3 separate regions of the Homo sapiens genome follow, and all the other regions are linked to region 1. Evidence: fine-mapped expression QTL. A gene starts in region 1. Each other region holds a variant in brackets. All regions are shown on one strand. Distances are from middle to middle.

Region 1 (4,245 bases):
GAGGTACCTCCATAAAGGCAAATGTGGTTGGCTTTTCTTATTCTGTGTGGAGAGTGCTTCACAGCCTCTGTGTTTACCTTTGCAGTTGTGAGCTTGCCCTAATGTGGACTCTGCCTCACCAGTCCTGACTTTTCCCTCATTTGCTTCTCAGAGGCTTCCTCAGGAATTAGGTGGGGTTGGCCAGAACAGAGCTACAAAGAAAGGGTAGGCCATCGTAGCTCTAAGACTGTTTCATTCTCTAATTATTAAGGTTCCAAAGGAAAACTTTCAGCAGCACACAATTTTTTCAAAAAAACATGCTTTATTATTGTTTGCTTTTATTTATACTTTAAATTTTAAAATAATTATGGACTCACAGGAAGTTGCAAACATACTACATAGAGCTCCTGTGTGACCTTCACCCAATTTCCCCCAATGATATTATCATACATAACTATAGTTCAATATTAAGACCCAGGAAATTGCCATTGGTACAACTTATCTTATTCAGATGTCACGTTTTTATGTGCATTCATATATGTATGTAGTTCTATGCAGTCCTATCCTGTGTATAACACACATTCATGTAACCACCACCACAATCTAAATTTGTCTCATCATAACAAATAAACTTCTTTATTCTGATCCTTTACATTTGCCCCACCGCTAACCCCTGGCAACCACTATCCATCTCTATAATCTTGTCATTTCAATAATATTATTTAAATGCAGCCCAGTGTTTCTCCATTCACGTTGCTCTTTTTCCAAAGCATAGTATTCATATACTTGGGAAATACTGGGTCTACCAAATAACAATAATATCAACTATATACAGGCACTGAGCTAAGTCCTTTTTCCACTTAATCTTCAAAATAGCCCTGTGAGGCTATTTATTAATACCTGGCATTAGTATTAGTAAATCACATCACATTACCCTCACGATTAAAAAAGACCTCTAATGTCTCCCAATTTCATTTAGAGGAAACATGGACTCTCACTCTGGCTATAGGACCCACTCCCTTAGCTGACCTTTTGTTTCACTACATCTCTTACCAACCCCACCCACCTTGCTCTACTCTATTTGGAGTGGTATCGTTCTGTCCTTGAATATGCCCAGTCAAGCTGCTTCCTGCCTCAGGACCTCTGTATCTGCTGTTCCTTCTACCTGAAATTCTACAGTCAGATCCGTCAATAGCTGGTTCTCTGTCCTCATTAAGTCTTAACTCAAAATTTTATCTTCTCAGAGAGACTCTCCCTGTACACATAATGTAAAAAACCAAAAACCTCTCCATATGGGGCTGCCAGATTTAGCAAACAAAAACATGACACCCAGTTAAATTTAAATTTCAGATAAATAATAGTATTTTAGTATAAGTATGTCCCATGCAATATTTGGGACATACATATACTAATATTATTCATTGTTTCTCTGAAAGTCAGTTTAATTGGGTGTCCTGCATTTTGTCTGGAAGCTCTTCCTCTGTAGCCACTCTGTTATGTGGTACCCTGCTTAACTGTTTCCATGGGACTTTTGCATATTAGAAATTCTGTTTATTGTCTCGCATCACCTCCCAACCCTCACCCTCACAATAAGCTCCATGTGGGTGGGACCCTGATGCCCTGTTCACAGCTGCATCCCCAGAGCCTATCACAGTGCCTGGTATATAGTAGGTGCTTAATAAATATTTGTTATAAAGGTAACAAAAACAAAACAAAACAAAAAACTTAGGTTGGTAACACCTCCAAAGCATACTGCTAGCTAGACAAGACTGATCAGTGTGCTACCGCAGCTTAGGGAACTCTCCCGTTTTCCCCATTTAGGAGGACGAAAGAGGCATTGTGTTGCTGGCCTTTCAGAAGTCTCTCCTAGCAGAATCAGAAGACCCTGGCTGAGCAGCTTTGGGAGAAGCAAAGTCTGAATGAGCTAAAAAGCCTTTTCCGTTTGCCTTGCAACAAGCAAATGAAGTAACCAAAGAAAAAATGCGCTTGAATGAAAAGAACAAGATTCTGTGCGTGCCGAATCGGATCAAAGGCAGTGCGCATCACCCATCTTCGTCCACCGTAAACTCCCTGCAACTTAAGGGCTGGCTTTATCGTCAGACTCCGGAAATGCTAGAACCTGATCATAAGAGACCAGTGCAGAGGCAAATAAAGAAAAGGGAGGGGTGGATGGGGATGAAGTCAAGACAGAAGAAATTAAACTCTCGTCTTGGACCCAGGGAGCGCAACGGGGCGGGGGCAGACGTCTTCAGCTTTAGAACTCCGTCGGGTTCATCGCTCAGTGTGGACGATCGGCGCCCCCACGAGACCCATCGAGGGCACATAGTTTCCACTCCAGCTCGCTTCATCCGACCCAGACGATCGCCAGCGCGGCCAGCGGCCAGCGCACAGCGAGCTGCCTGGGCAACTGTGGCCGGATCCTAGGGAGCAAGCTGGCTTCGGGCCCTACCTAGCTCCACCCGGCTCCTACCGGCCCTCCCACCTAGGAGCTGGAGGATGGTCCCGGGGCGCCCCAGGGGGACTGCTGGTCCCCGGAGTCTCCAGCCAGACGCGCCTTGTTGTGTGAGCCGCGTGCGCGCCCAATTTGGAGGCAGCCGCCCCCGCCGCTGACAGGTGCTGCCCAGAGGGCGCCGGGTGCGGTCCCTGGCGCAGCTGGACGCGCACGCCCCGGTGCGTGCAGCTTCCCGAGCTCGGTCAGAGAGAAGAGGGAGCCAGGGCGCGGCCTGGGGGACGCCAGTGGACTGGAGCCGCGGAGCTTCGAGGGAAAAACTTTGCAGGCGCCGCGGCCGGGATTCGGTTACGGCTCCAGCCCACCCCAGCAGGTGCGGGAGGAAGAGGCAGCGCCGGAGTCCCGAGGCCAGAGAGCCTCGGCGGCGGCGGCCGCTTCTTTCCCCCGAGCTGGCCTGAAGTCGCTGGGCACTCCCGGTTTCTGCTGCTGCGCCCGCCGCCGCCGCCGCCGCCACCGCCAGCGCCGCGGGGACCCGGGAGGAGGTGCAGCCGAAGAGGGAGGAGAAGCAGGAGGAGGAGGAGGAGGAGGAGGGGAGAGGAGGAGCAGGGGGTGGAGGATGGAGCCCCGGGCTGCCGCGGCGGGCGAGCCAGAGCCGCCGGCGGCGTCCTCCTCCTTCCAGGCCCGGCTCTGGAAGAACCTGCAGCTGGGGGTGGGCAGGAGCAAGGGCGGCGGGGGCGGGCGCGCTGGGGGTCCAGAGCGCCGCACTGCGGACACCCCGTCGCCCTCCCCGCCACCCCCGGTGGGCACAGGGAATGCACCGGCCAGGGGGAGTGGTGCAGGCAGCAGGTGGAGCGGCTTCAAGAAGCGGAAGCAAGTGCTGGACCGAGTCTTCTCCTCCTCGCAGCCCAACCTGTGCTGCTCGTCGCCGGAGCCCCTGGAGCCCGGCGGCGCCGGCAGAGCCGAGCAGGGGTCCACGCTACGCCGCCGGATCCGCGAGCATTTGCTCCCCGCCGTAAAGGGGCCCGCGGCGGCCTCGGGAGCAGCGGGAGGGACGCCTCCTGGCGGACGCTCCCCCGACTCAGCTCCTTCCTCTTCCTCCGCCTCATCCTCCCTGTCCTCCTCGCCCCAGCCTCCCCCGAGGGGGGACCGCGCCCGAGATGAGGGTGCACGGCGTCAGGGCCCCGGGGCGCACTTGTGCCACCAGAAGAGCTCCTCTCTGCCGGGCACCGCCTGCCTGGAGCAGCTGCTGGAGCCGCCGCCTCCTCCCGCAGAGCCGGCGCGGAGTCCCGCGGAGTCTCGGGCCCCGGAGACGGGCGAGGAGCACGGCAGCAGCCAGGTGAGTGCCGGTGGCGCGGCCGGAGACAAGGTGCGCGGGACCACGCCTCCCTCTTCAGGCGTTCACCACCCGGGGAGCGGGGGGCGGGGGCCGGGAGGCGGGAGGAGAAATGCTATTAATTCTAAGTAGATGAAACAGTCGAAAGAAAACATCTCGCTCTGGTTTAGCAAAGATGAAAGAGTTCTGACTTGCACCCGGACTTTACTTTTGGTAGAAATGATACCTGTCACCAGAAGCTTTCTGAGTAGTCAATGAAAAGTTAGACCTAAAGTGGGTACTTTTTAGAGTTCTCCTGAAAGGAGATGTCCAGCCAAATCTCATCTTGGCAAAAGAAAAAACTAACCCAATAACTTAAAAACAATTACGATCACGTGTGGTGGTGTGGAGAGGTACCATTGGAAGCAAATGGCTGGCGGGAAGAAATAGAAACGTGGAGAGGTAAATTATGGCACATGTGAGGTCCTGTGCCAGGGAAAGCATC
Region 2 (4,245 bases), 540 kb after region 1:
TATCCTCTTGGATAGTAAAATATATGAGGTTCAATTTGCTTCTCTTTTTCTACTTAGTTTGAAGACTCAACAGAGAGCTGGAAATGTAGTGCTACAGTGCTTCTGGCTCAAGAAAGTCTTTTTGGAATCTATTAGTATCATCAGTGTCCTGAGACAATCGAGAAACTTAGAGTGCTGATAACTATGCTCAAAAAGTAAATGTGCAAGGCAATGTTAACTATATTTTCCATTACATTCCAAGTCTATTAATAGAAAGAACAAAGATCAGAGAATAAAAACTTGCCCCACAGAAATTTTATTTCCAGTCAAAGATTTGAATCTAAATTTTTCAGAGCATGGGACTAAAGAGATCAGGCAATCATGGGTTTTGTCCTGTAGCCACAAAGGATGTATGTACCTATTTAACCATGTCAAAATGTTTCCTGGTAAACTAGGGGGCCAGGTTAGAAAGTTGGCAGGGAGCCATGTACTCAGAACTACTCTGAGAAGCCTTAACGGACTGCTGTCTCGACAATGTTTCAGTAGTTCCACAGTCGTCACCCTGTGCTCTTTAGCAAGCTCTGAGTCCTAACTGTACATGCAACTGGCATGTGTTTATCTAGTCTGGAAAATGCTTTCCTATAAAAGATGAAGAAACTGAGTTTAAAAGTCCACATACCTTTGGAAGACACAGAAGATGGAATAAAACCCACATCAAATTACAGAAACCTAATCATCTGGGTCAAACAGTATAATTTGTCAATAGTATCAAAACTTCCTTATGGTTTCTTTCTTGAGACAGAGTTGCACTCTTGTCACCCAGTCTGGAGTGCAATGGCACAATCTCAGCTCGCTGCAACCTCTGACTCCTGGGTTCAAGCAATTATTTTGCCTCAGCCTCCCAAGTACCTGGGATTACAGGCGCGCGCCACTACGCCGAGCAATTTTTATACTTTTAGTAGAGACGGGATTTCACCACATTGGCCAGACTGGTCTCAAACTCCTGACCTCAGATGATCCACCTGTCTTGGCCTCCCAAGGTGCTGGGTTTACAGGCGTGAGCCACCATGCCTGGCCTCCTTATAATTTCAGAAGCTCAATTTATTACAGAATAATTACCCCCATCCAGTTAGTATAATAGTTAAAGACCACTAACCCACCAATCAGAAGACCTCGATTCTAGATCCGCCTCTGTTGCAATCTGGACTTTACCTCTCTTAGCTTTATATATGAAAAGGATTATTTGGGCTAGAACAGAAGTCAGTAAACTACAGTCCACAGGCCAAATTCAGCCAACTGTAAATAAAGTTTTATTGGCATACAACTACACCCATTTGTTTTCTTACTATCTACGGCTGCTTTCATGCTTTCAATGAAGGGGTGAATAGCGGCAACACAGATTATGTGGCCTGGAACACCTAAAATATTTACTATTTAGCCCTTTACAGAAAAAAAAATTACTTCTGAATTGGAAGCTATCCAAGAGATAGCTCCTCTGTCTCCTCATCTGCAAAATGGGAACAAAAATAATACTTGCCTCATAAGATTATGAGGATTAAATGATGGTTCTTAATACAGTTTCTACATAGGAAATGATAGGTAACATATAATTATATAACTGTTAAAATGGTGAGCATGACCATTGTCAGAATTGTAGCAATCAGTTTTCCATTACAGAAAAAATACTTGCTGCTGTCGTGCTATGCTACGATATTACATGGAACAGAAAAGATGGCAGTTCACACACAGAACTCCTGGACAACTGAAATAACAAAATCCAGTACAGGCAGAAGATATGGATAAAGGCAAACTGTATCTCCAGCCTAAAAAAAAAGCTGGAAACCTACATTATCTAATTATCAACCTGATACTTGAGCTAGACTTTGAAGGCTAAGTCAGATTCAAACAAGCCAAAAGAGGAACTTAAAGGTATTCAAGGTCAAGGGGAAGTGGAATTCCCAAGAGGCCTTGAGAGGGCAGTTTGTAGAAGAATTTAGCCACAGCAAAATATACTGACGCAAGAGTTGTGAGTGACAGGGTAAGAATGGTTGGTTGGGACCAGGTTGTGGAGTTTTGAGCACTGGAGCAAGGAATGTAGACAGTTTCTTATGTGCATTGAGATCCACTGAAGTTTTCTGAACCTGAAAAATATTAGTATTTCTAGAATAATTTACCTATCTTTATGACATGGAATGCATGAGAAGACAAAGAAACAGGAAATTAAGTTCATTTTAAAGAGATGAATTTCAGTTTTGTCTGCACTATTACATTATAAAAATGTCTTATATTTGTTGTTTATATTTGTTCTTATTCCCCTTTGTAAAATTTCACTTAAGCCTACTTTACCTACTGTATTTAAAATGGAGTAGTAGCTAATGCACAAATATACAAATGAAGTCATGGTTTTTATTCTTTCTGTAACTACTTAAAGAGCATCATTTTACATATATCTCAAAACATTCATAATATTAGCACTTATTAGGGGTTTACCGTGTAAAAGATAGGAGAAAATGAGTCAAACATGAGTAACGCCTTCAATCT[G/A]GGAGGGGAAATAAATGACATAAAAGAATTAATAGAGGGCTGTGAGTCATTTGAGTATTCAGAAAGGAGTAGGAGGCAGAAAGGGCTCCAGTCAAGTGTGGCGGATATTGTCTACCCAGTGTTTATTTCCCCATTTTCCCTTGCTAATGGAAGACGGACTTTGTACATAATGACAAAGATTCTGCCTAAATCCTCAGTTTTCTAAGGTTTCATTGTATCTATGAATGACTCTTTAATATAGTTCTGGCCAAAGAGCTGGAAAAGGATGTGTTCCGGGGGTTTCTGGGAAAGTTTTTTACTTTCTTGATAACATAGGACAGATATTGCTGACTCCATCCTTCCCCCTCTCATCTACCTTTGAATGTGAATGCAATGCTTACAGCTGGGGCAGCCATATTAACACCATGAGGCAATAAACATAAGGATGAAGAAATGGAAAGACAGAAAGTTCTTAGGGCCCAAATGATCACTTTGAACATCTGGTACAATATCAATAACCTGACTTCTGAACTTCCTATTGCATGAGGAAAATTAACTCTACTACCTAATCTACTACTAGAATATTCTGTTGCTTGCAGCCGAGCACTTTGTGCTGCTTCTCTTCTGTAAATATGTTTTTCTTCAATGAGTACTTATTTCTTCAACACATTTTTCTTCAAGTTTCTATTAAGCACCTATGTGTCAGGCTCAGTGTTAGGCACTAGAAATAAATATAATGATGCCTCCCTTAATTTTTCTCTGCAAGAATACCTGATGATTTTGAAGATACTCAAATGGAGAACAGTAAAATGACTCTTTCCTCTCCACCTTTCTTTCATATCGCCTAACTGCCCTCTACCCCTACCAGCTCATCTGCAAAATGGGAATAAGAGACAAAAAGAGACAAAGTGAAAATGAGGCTAAAAGAAGTCAAATATATGTATTACACATGCCTCCTCCCCATTCTCCCAGAAGAAATGGAAACAAGTGGACACTCTGTAAGAGAACAGGAAAGCCAGTGCAGCTCCTTTATCCCTCCTCACATCTTGCACCAAAGAGCACACTCTCCGAGCTGTGGAGCAGCTATGGAATCTCCACCCAGAACATTATAATTGACCCATTTTGGGAAAAGGTTTGTTCACTTGTGGGCATACTGGTTATAGACAGAAAGGCATTATTAAGCAAGTCCTCAAACCTGAAGCCCTAAACTTCCCCTTAGACCTTGCTGCACTCAGGCGTATCCAGTAAGAAAACTATGGTCATGAGAAGTGGCTGGGAAACATTCTTACTCTCTGTGGGTGGGAGCATGTCATAGGACTACTCTGGAGTCTTCCTTCTCTTGTTGTTTCAACCATCTTAAAAGCAATGGTTATCTGACAAGAAATGCTGTGTTAAGGCTGTGCCCTTGGACTTGTCCAAGTTTGCACAGCACAGGCAGGGCAGGATTTGAATCCAATGTTAAAGCCCCTTACTGTATTTTGGGAAATGAGCTGAACACAGTTTTAGTCTTGGTATCAAATCTCGGGATGTAATCCAGTCAAGAACTACCTATTGGTGGCTGGGCGCGGTGGCTCACACCTGTAATCCCAGCACGTTGGAGGCCGAGACGGGCGGATCACCTGAGGTTGGGAGTTCGAGATCAGCCTGACCAACATGGAGAAGCCCCATCTCTACTAAAAATACAAAATACAAAAATTAGCCCAGTGTGGTGGCACACGCCTGTAATCCCAGCTACTCAGAAGGCTG
Region 3 (4,245 bases), 600 kb after region 1:
ATCAGAGAACACCAAAAATACTGGGTTTTGCAGCAATAAAAGTTTAGAGTGCAATTGCCCTCTCTTAAATTTATTCATGAACCTACATTAAATGTATGGCTCTTTTTTATACAGCATTTATAGCTTAATTCAAATGAATGTTTCTGGCTAAGCATGAGTGCCTCTACACACTCAAGTATAATTCAGAACTTCAAATCCATTAACAGATGGTTTGCTGCTTCTCAATAGGCTGTCTGGCTTGGCTACAACAGCAGAGAGAGGGAGAAATGGAGGAATCTTAATATAAACACACCACACACACACACACACACAGACACACACACGGATGTAAAAAAAAAAAAAATCCCTAGTACCATTTAAAGCTGAACAAGAGTAACAAATAGAAATGACAAGGTTTTTTCTAGGAGAGACGCAATTAATGCCTTCTGGCTAAAATTGTCTATATCCATCACTGTTACAACCAAGATTAATAAGATATAAGTGATTATTTAAGGGGAATTTTAAAAAAATTACTATAAATGACTGCTTAGGAAACAAAATGAAATACTGAATCTAATTTGTTCTTACTATAAAATACTAAGTAGCACATTTTTACAGTGTTCAGTTTTACAGATTATCTCTAACTTCTACAAAAACATTTTTTTACATGCATAAAAAGCTTTTGAAGTTTTTCTCTACTATATCTCAATTCTCTTCCTCTCTCCCAGTTCCTTCTGCTGTTCTGCCTAAAATCATTCATATTCATTTTACTTTCTGAAACAATAAAACAAAGAAAAAGAACGCTGATTTGTGAAATTAATATCTGAGTTCTCATCTAATATAATTTTCATATTCCAAGTCAAATGGACAGTTATTTTGAATCTGTAATATGCAATTATGAACTTATATCACATTGAAATATAAGTGCTTCACTGTCACTATTTCCATGGGTGTCATAATGTTAATATTTGTATTAAAAACAAGATATAACTCATAAACAACAACAACAAAAAAGACTCAGCAATTTACTTTGGCCAGGTATAGACTTCTGGAAGATCCATTTACAAGTTATGAGGTGGCTAAGTAAAAGAGGTGCCAAAGTGAATTATTATGCTATTCTTGTTATTTCATCCTTTAGGTACTTAGGTTCCAGTATAGTTAGAACCAAAAGCCAAACACATTTCATAGTCTGGGCTCAATGCCTGGAAGAAAAGAGCCCATATGCTTAACACAGCTATGTAACATAGCCTACTCTTCATTCTTTGTTCACAAAATGTCTAGGACTGAAAGAGATGAAGACTGAATTATACTTTCAAATCAGAAGACACTGATCCTAAGCAGCACAGGTTGAGATGGAATAGAAAAGTAAGGCGGGCAAGTCTGGAATGAGCTCAATGAATGCTACACTGTGTTTCATATCTGTAATGGCAGGGAGAGGAAAAAAAGGAAAGAATACTCTATTATACTGGTTATTAAACAATCACTTTCTTTGCATAAATGACAGTTCAAGAAAATAATACGTTATCCAAGAAGGTACTTCCTGGACCTAGTCCAATATTTAAGTTCAAGTATTCATCAGGGCAAATGTGTGAAACCTGCAAGTACTGACTATAACCATGAAAAGTTCTTAGCATAAATTAATTTAAATACTTGGAATACCTTTTAGATTAGTCTTGTGAAAATTCATCTTTTTAACTACAGAGGGGCAATTCTCCTTGGAACATGACAATTCTCCTTCTGACTTCTTTTTCAATTTTTTTAATGATGAGGAACATTTAGCAAGGTTCAGGTCTCTGAAAGGAAAAGTAAGAAATAATGAAAGCTTGTTTTTCAGCAAGGCGTGCCAGCATACATTAGATGGTATTTTTTAAAAGTCTAGCCCCCTTTTAATTTAAACTCCCTTACTCATTCAATCTTTACTGCTTTCTAATTTTAAAATTTATTTCAACTGTGTAGAAACAAACTTCAGTGCACTAATTTTCTTTTATTAGTCCTACTCCCCCAACTGCTCACTAAATTTATAAATACAGAATGTCAAATAAAGAGAAAAAGACCAGTTAAACCATATTTGGCAGAGAGAATAAAGCAGAAAGCTAAGATCAAGCAGGCCTCTGCTCCCCATTCTTACTTTCATATTCTGATTCTATTCTCTTCTTCCTCTCACAGAAGCTTTCAGGCTTTCTGAGTTTTATACAACATACACTTTTATACACCTTATACTTTTAGAGG[T/AGGT]TTCTCATTTTGGGGAAACTACTATAATGATACAGGATATCTCATATGACCATGCATTCTGAAATCCCATCTATATTATGGCAAAGTAGTCATTCAAATCATAGGGCAAAAATTGTGTGGAACTGTATTTCATCAATAATTCATCAATAATTTGATGAGCAGTTTTATTTCTTTTGGGAAGCACTTAGAAAGCATGTACCTTGAATTACAGAAACAGAAAATGTTGATCAAATAGATCTAAAATTGAGTTTTGATCTAATCAGTATAATTCAGACAGTATCACAGATAACCATTAAGTTCAAGAAATGCATCAGAGAAAGAGCTGTACTCCAAAACAAAGCACAGCTGGGATATCAGCATCACTTACAGTAACTCTGGCAGCCCTTCGACTTGTTTTTGTTTAGTACCATTCAGCATTAGTAAGGTTCTCTGAGAGTCAAAACAAGGCCGCTGTCCTATTTTCTTTGACACCTGAATCTTTCCAGACCCAAGCACACCAGTTTTCCCCAAGGCTGGTAAATAGGAATATACCTGTTGAAAAATAATATTGCATTATTTTCTCAACTACAAAAACAGCAGTAAAGAGAAATTATTTGATTCATTTCACTATTACATTTGGTTATATTTTCTTGGTTGCATCACTATGGTTGCCACTCTATCTTGGTTGAACATAATAAAATATTAAGAAAACTAGTTTTGTGTCAAAGTCAATACCATGTGAACAACCAGAAAAACACCTTCTTAAAAATAATTATTTTTTTCTAATTCAATTTTGATCCTCATTTAGGAAAGCTCTTTTGATTAGTCTTATGCCCAACAGGTATGATTCATTTGCACATTTTATATGTATGATTTACATACAACTGGTATTTTGTAATTTCCATTCTGATAATGCCTTGAACAGAAAACAAGTCTTTCTTCAACAGAAAACAAAATAAGGAATAAAAACATCCTTAAAGGATTGTTGCAAAACAGAATTTGACTAATATCTAAAGATATTAATATCTAAAGATAGATATTAATATCTACATATCTAAATTAATATTGCCTTATTAATAATAATAAATAATTATTATTAAATATTAATATCTAAAGATAGCCAAAATAAAACTGGAAAACTTTAAATCAAATGTAGCTTATATGCATAATATTTTGCTTTTTAAATACCATTTAGAATTTTGTTGGATCTAGTTCTTTCCAAAATAATAACCTATGTAGGAATTTTATTAGGAAACAAGGATTTTTTAGTTTTCTATGATCAACCCTTGGCTACGCTCAAAAGTAATTAAAATTTCTTTTTCCTTTCTTTTCTTTCTTTGTTGTTGTTGTTGTTGTTGTTGTTGTTGAGACAGGGTCTTAGTGTGCCACCTAGGCTACAGTACAGTGGTTATCACAGGTCACTGCTGCCTCGACCTCCTGGGATTAAGGATCCTCCCACCTCAGCCTCCCGAGTAGCTGGGACCACAGGCATGTGCCACCATGCCCAGCTAATTTAACTTTTTTTTAGAGACAGAGTATTGCTATGTTGCCCAGGCTGGTCTCGAACTCCTGGGCTCAAGGGATCCTCCTGCCTCAGCTTCCAAAAGTGTTAGAATTATAGGCAGGGGCCATCATGCTCGGCCTTAAAATTTCTATTTGGTGATTACCTTCCCCCCACTGCCCCTGGAGAAGGGGTCTCACTATGTTGTCCAGGATGGAATGCAGTGGCTATGCACAAGTGCAACCATAATGCACTACAGCTTCAAATTCTGGGGATTAAGCAATCCTCCCGCCTCAGTCTCCTGAGTAGCTGGAACTACAGGCACTCACCTGCAGGCACTCACCTACAGGCACTCAGCACGGCCGCTGGCTTTCATTACTCTAATTAGAGACAGAAATATACTAGCTTTTATACAGAATTGAAATATTTATGAATTAATATATTCTGCCTACTTACTTGAAATAACTAAGAATTTTTTAAAATTGAGTTTGTGGGCCAGGCGTGGTGGCTCACGCCTGTAATCCCAGCACTTTGGGAGGCCGAGGCAGGCAGATCAC

Alleles and levels. Positions count from the first base shown, and alleles are read on the strand shown. Sizes are in standard deviations (SD) of each study's normalised expression. Not every link is listed here.
In carriers of allele G in region 2, the expression in neutrophils of the gene that starts at base 2,526 in region 1 tends to be higher than with A alone (moderate effect, 0.68 SD a copy in CEDAR).

What was found. PIP is the estimated chance that this variant, and not a neighbour inherited with it, causes the effect. A credible set is the group of variants that fine-mapping cannot tell apart.
Region 2: its variant is the best candidate, but not a certain one, in a credible set for the expression of MCTP1 in neutrophils (CEDAR, PIP 0.58).
Region 3: its variant is the best candidate, but not a certain one, in a credible set for the expression of MCTP1 in whole blood (INTERVAL, PIP 0.52).

The regions. Positions count from the first base shown.
Region 1 is chr5:95,283,375-95,287,619 of GRCh38, reverse strand. MCTP1 (multiple C2 and transmembrane domain containing 1) reads left to right here and starts at 2,526. Exons shown (of 23, transcript NM_024717.7): 1 at 2,526-3,764. The coding sequence starts at 3,045. RefSeq lists silencers at 3,178-3,237, 3,318-3,437.
Region 2 is chr5:94,744,620-94,748,864 of GRCh38, reverse strand. All of the region lies in intron 19 of MCTP1 (multiple C2 and transmembrane domain containing 1), which reads left to right. Among named protein-coding and RNA genes, the nearest start is that of SLF1, 130 kb to the right of the region's middle. The variant G/A (reference allele first, on the strand shown) is at 2,521.
Region 3 is chr5:94,687,000-94,691,244 of GRCh38, reverse strand. SLF1 (SMC5/6 complex localization factor 1) reads right to left here. Exons shown (of 21, transcript NM_032290.4): 17 at 2,576-2,739; 18 at 1,639-1,772. Among named protein-coding and RNA genes, the nearest start is that of SLF1, 70 kb to the right of the region's middle. The variant T/AGGT (reference allele first, on the strand shown) is at 2,209.